Regions from separate parts of the Homo sapiens genome. Here region 2 is linked to region 1. Evidence: fine-mapped expression QTL. A gene starts in region 1. The other region holds a variant in brackets. All regions are shown on one strand. Distances are between the middles of the regions.

Region 1 (2,913 bases):
CTGTGCCCTTTCATTGTTAAGTCATCTCAACCCCTCGTCAAAATTCTTGTACCATCACATGCTTCCTCTCTTCTAATTTCCACAGTCTGTGAACACCAAGAACAAAGACCTCATCCACTTCATCTCTGTATATCAAGCACATAGCACAGTCCAAAGGTCTGGGTAGGCAAATCAAGAAAAGACTGTTTACTCTTGATTCATCCAGTCCATTATTTTCACCCTTGGTGAACTAGGTTCAACCCCAATCACTGCCAAGTTGTTTTCTGAAAATTCACCAATGACCCTGTTCTCAGCAAGGTCGTGAATCACTGATAGACTCTGGAAGAGTGGAGTTTCCTTATCTTTGTATTCCCAAGGTGCTTAGTGAGGTAGCTTCCACACAGTAATCACCCATTAAAGGTCTGTCAACTTGAATAAGAAAGAAAATATGAACTGAGAGGACAGAATAGTCACTGCTGATCAGCAGGTCACGGATATTTCCTGAAATAAAAGTACCAAAAAAAAAAATCTGGAGACTGTTATCTCTATCGTTCCCAGATTCTAGTTTCCATAGCAAACTGTTCATTTAAACGAGAAGTGCAAACATCTCACCAAATTATCTTGGTCAAAGGCATGGAGAGTGAGTACGGGGAAGGGGGGCTCCCTTACCATGGGATAAAATCAATAGCACGTAAAACACATTAGGCTTTAACCCCAACCTTGGGCCAGGAGGGAGGCTGGTAGCTTGCAGAATGCACCCCAAGAAACTCCTTCCCCACCTTCTATTTTCTAGCGGCCCAAGTGAGATGTGGAAAGGTCCGCACCCTGCGGGCCGGCTGTGACTTGAAAACAGAGCCACTGGGCACCCCAAAAGCTTGCGTGCCGTGCCTGTGCGGAGCAAGGCCCCTTCAGCGCGGAGCTCCAAAGGCGCTAAGCCGGGCAGCCGGGTCGTCCTGAATCTGCGGGCTGCACACGCCCGCCGGGAGCTGCAGCGCCCGGAGCCCAGCAGAGCGGCCGCCGGCCGCAGCCGCAAACGCGTGGGGTGCAGGGCCGCGCCACCGCGGGGGAAAGACACGAAGAGGAGCTGAGGAACCGAGCGGGCAGAGACCACGAGAGGCCCCAGGTCGACGCCGCGCGCGCGGGCCCGGAAGAGACGGTCACGTGACACCGACCTGCTGGTCCCACTGCTGCTTCACATGTACGCCGGCCACTGTGGCCGCCGTCAGCAGCACCGAGAGGCCCAGCACCACCTTCGAGCTCCTAGACATCCCCACGCTGGCGGCCGCGGCCTCTCTCTCCCGCCCGCCCGAGGCGCAGAGGCCGCCGCAGAGTGCGCACCGCCGCCTGTACTGCCCAGGCTCGACCCCTCGAGCGCAGAGCCCCAGCCGTCGCGTGCGCCGCTCGCCGCTGCCAGGCGTGAGCAATCGAGAGCCGAGCATAGAGCGGCGCCCAGGCTCTACGAACTCTTGGCTTCACTAGGGGCCTCCTGCACACCCCGCAGGCGACAGCGTTAGACCACCCCCGATTCAAATTCTAGGAGTCCCGGCCCAAACTGGCCCCGGCACCTTACCAGGGTGGAGGGTGGGGGTTCCATGCCCCTCAGTCAGTTCAGTACCAACCTCACCCCGGGCGGGGTCTGGATACCGTGCTGACCCCTCTCCCACAGACGTCCCTTCTGAGCCCCTGACTGATCCAGAAGCTTCGCCCAATACCGGCTTCGCCTAAACGCAGCCCCCTCATTGCTCCTTTGGCGGGGCAGGCGCCACCAGGAGACCGCCTCGTTAGGCAGCTTCAGAGGCGCGGGGTTCCCATCCGTGGAGTTTTTGCCTGAGGACCCATTATTAAACGCTGTAGTCGCGGTCACCTGGTTTCACCTTGACGCTGTGGGGCGACTGGTCAGGCTCGGATTATTATTATTATTATTATTATAATTTTGATACAGAGTCTCTGTCTATCGCCCAGGCTGGAGTGCAGTGGCGCGATCTCGGCTCACTGCAACCTTACCGGATTCAAGCGATTCTCCTGCCTCAGCCTCCCGAGAGGATTACAGGCGTGAGCCACCGCGCCTGGCCCCATGTAATCTTTGTGATCACTTTTACACCCAAGTTTCCGCGCCAGTAATACAAGGGAAATAAATGATATAAAGAAGTCTTGCGTTGGGAATAGTTAAGCAATTGTGCAAGACGCATTTTCACTTCTTCCTCGGGTAAAAAAGGCAAGGCCTCCCAGAAACTTTTAAGTATCTGATAGAGCAACCAGTGAAAACGTGTTCATCATTCAATCATTCTTTCCCACTAGAATTCACAGAGAACGAGCTTCTTCCGGTGGACACGGCTATAGGCAGTATTGATTAAGCCTCACCAGGGAGTTTTACAACATTCATTACTGTTCATAGTGCTTTGCTATTCCAGTCTCTTATGTGAGCGTAAATGGCATAAGGGGACTATTGCTCTTAAAGGTATCTTTAAAGATACCTTTTCCAAATGTCATTTTGTCCACAGCATTTTTTGCAGCCTAGAGAGAATGTACCACTGAATTGGAAAATGGAGTTCTTGCTGTAATGAACTTTGAGAAGAAATTCAGTTCAGGGTGTATTTGCATATTTCTCTTTAAAAATTATATTAGACTTCTTTTTATTCGTGGTATATCCTAGATATTTTCCCCTGTAAATCAGTGAGCCTTCAACAGAGCTGTATGTCCTTAGAGTGTACATCAGGGAATTAGATCAATCGCCTTTCATTTTATTGTGACTAATTTTTCAACTTGTTTTCTTGAAATGTACTCTTTTCTTTATTTTCAGGATACTAGAAGCAAAAAAAAAAGTATTCTACTTTTAAGAAATCATTTATTATTAACTGTGTCAAATAAAAAAGTGGGTTGGGGGACTGAGGGAGGTCTTGCAAAAAAAAAAAAGTATGTTTATCTGTTTAAATA
Region 2 (2,913 bases), 28 kb before region 1:
TGTTGCTGGGTGGCTGCCCTCCCCCAGAAGCCAGGAGGTCTGATCTCTAGAGAACTAACAGGGGATCCAGCTGGAGGGCTGAGGTGTGAGTACCTGACAAGCTGAATGCTAAGGTCCCTCTTCCCCAACTTGGCAACCAGCATCCTGAGCCCAGAAGATTATTCCCCAGGGACTCTGACTAGATTCAAAGAAAAAACCTAAAGGAAGTGCAGTGGTCCTCAACAGAGGTCTCACCTAGACAATGTGGCTGTGTATGGAATTCCAGGTTCAACCTCACTTAATGAGGGTCTTTTCAGTATGTTGGTCTCAAATTTTACTTCCCATGCAGCTTTTCTCAGGAAGTCATTAAGAACAAGGGAATAAACCTATAACAAGGTAAAGATGGGCCACAGGAAACAGGAGATCAAATACAGAGGAGGGCAAAAGAATCTCCAGAGAGGGGAGATCCCAACACCCCTGCTGAGTTTCACAACAAAGGGTGAACAAGTGTGACCCAAGGGGCAGACATAGTGTAGAAAGTAAAAAGTTTCCTCTTCAAAGTTTTCCTTCTTGTTAAAGAATAAATCATAAGTGTTAGAAATAACAGTTTCTTTTAAAGACTAACTTTCTTCAAGTCTCCTTGCCTTGTGCTAATAACTCTTTGTTAAGCCCTATCCTCTGTAACCGTTGGACATGCTCACAGGCACGTTCCAGCCCACAGTCTACGCCCCTTCCTTATTTGGAAATGTTATTGCTTCCTTAAACCTTTTGTAAGCAACTTCTTTGTTCTTCCCTGCACTTACCTATTTAGGAAAGTTTTAGGCTATTAGCAAATCGGGTATCAGTTTAAGATTGTGAGGTCCCGCTCCAGCCAGTGGATGCAGGACACAGCAGTAAGGACGACCCAAGTGCGTAAGGGATAAATATGTCTGCTTTTCCTGTGTTCAAGTGTGCTCTCACCTTTGTTCCATCTGCAACTGAGCACCCTTTCTACAGAAAGAAAAGATGGCCTTGCTGAGATACCTTTTGTCTCTGTGCTGACTTTTCTTCGCAGCACCGATTATCTATTTCTAACAATTTTGGTATTTCTAACACATATTGAGGCTATCATCCTTAAGTCCTTGCTGCCACTGACCATCTTTTAAACCTATGGCGTCGTGGCCCAGAATCTTATCTACGCTCAGCTTGTCTTCACCATGTACAGGTGAGCCTCCTGTACACCACCCATGCCCACCCCAAAGACCAGCTGATGATGCTCACTCCACAAATAACTGCTTTGACCTTCTGCAAGCTGGAAGGAAGCTGTCAGCTCAGGCAGGAAATACAGAGGATCCCACTTCCTCTGCCCAGATTTCTGCCGCATCTCTGGTATACATCACAGCCCTGGCTGATGCATACGCTATGGTGAGCCTCATGTTTCCCAGGACTCCCTAGTGACCTTGGCCAGTGACTACCTCAGAAGGGGTTCATGGAAGCCGAAGCCAGAACATCACTGTAAGTATTAGTTTCCCAGGGCTGTAGGAACAAAGCACCACAAACTGGGTGGCTTAAAACAACAGGAATTTATTGTCTCACAGTTCTAGAGGCCAAATGTCAGAAGTCACAGTGTGGGCAGGGCTATGCTCTCTGGGGTACGCACTAGGGGAGAATTTGTTCTGTGCCCTTCTCTTAGCTCCTGGTGCTGCCGGCAATCCTTGGTGGTCTTGGCTAATTATA[T/C]TTGCAAAGGGCCTATTTCCAGATAAGGCTGCATTCATAGGTACCAGGGTTGGGACTTCAACATATGCTTAAGGGGGACACAATTCAGTCCACAACAATGACCCAGAATGACTATTTAGCTTATCTTCTCCAGGAAACTTCATCTAATAGTGGCAATTTACTTACACAGCTAGATTTATGCTTGCTACTCAGTATTTTTTTAAACGAAAAGTATATCATTTAGAGACATACACATTTAAAAAGCAAAAGAATAATTAACACTGTAAGTCAAAGTGGCTTCCTCTGAGGGGAACAGAAAGTACACAGGAGACTTCTAAGGTGTTTACAACACTCTTTATCCAGGAGATGAATACATGGGCATTTATTTTACTAATATCTAAATTATACCATATTTCTATGCTGCCTTCTATCTGTATGACACATCTTACAATTTAAAAAATTAAGTATAGGCAGTAAACAGACAGGCCCACAAGAATAAGAACAAAGAACAGGTGAATATTGGCCAGGCGCAATGGCTCATGCCTGTAATCCCAGCACTTTGGGAGGCTGAGGCGATCACTCGAGCCCAGGAGTTTGAGATCAGTCTGGGCAAGATAGTAGGACCCTGTCTCTACTAAAAATAAAAATTAAAAAAAAAATTAGCTGAGTGTGGTAGTGTGTGCCTATAGTACCAGCTACTTGGGAAGCTGAGGTGGGAGAATTGCTTGAGCCTGAGAGTTCGGGGCTGCAATGAGCTGTGGTTGTGCCACTACATTCCAACCTGCGTGACAGAGAGAGACCATGTCTCAAAAAAAAAAAAAAAAAGAACAAGAACAAGTGAATAGATGACTAACAAAAGCATATGAACAAGCAGCAAATGACTTAACAGACCAAAGAAAGCCAATACCTAAGCCAGTGGTGAAGCTAAGCAGGGTGATTTACAAAACACAGCCTCAGGGAAGTGTAGTCACCTAAGGCATCAGGCTTAGAGCCTGGGGGGTATGACTATGGATTGTGAGGCTCTTTAAGAGGTTAAAGGCTCCAATTATACCCCTATAGTAATTATACTGCCCACATCTAGGAAATGATCTTTCCCTCCACGGGCAGAAGACTGGAGAGGCTCAAGAGGGAGATTCTGGACACAGGAAGCCAAGGGTGGGAGTACTGTACTGAAGACAGGGAGAGTCAGTTTACCTCCTAAACGATGGGCTCCTGGGCCCTCCCGACTTGGCTCCTGGT

Evidence for each region.
Region 2: its variant is fine-mapped to the expression of KAT14 in whole blood (TOPMed, PIP above 0.99).

What each region holds. Positions count from the first base shown.
Region 1 is chr20:18,136,290-18,139,202 of GRCh38, reverse strand. KAT14 (lysine acetyltransferase 14) reads right to left here and starts at 1,340. Exons shown (of 11, transcript NM_001392073.1): 1 at 1,152-1,340. PET117 (PET117 cytochrome c oxidase chaperone) reads right to left here and starts at 1,340. Exons shown (of 2, transcript NM_001164811.2): 1 at 1,152-1,340. The coding sequence starts at 1,247. RefSeq lists a silencer at 852-971.
Region 2 is chr20:18,164,204-18,167,116 of GRCh38, reverse strand. All of the region lies in intron 7 of KAT14 (lysine acetyltransferase 14), which reads right to left. Among named protein-coding and RNA genes, the nearest start is that of PET117, 28 kb to the right of the region's middle. The variant T/C (reference allele first, on the strand shown) is at 1,696.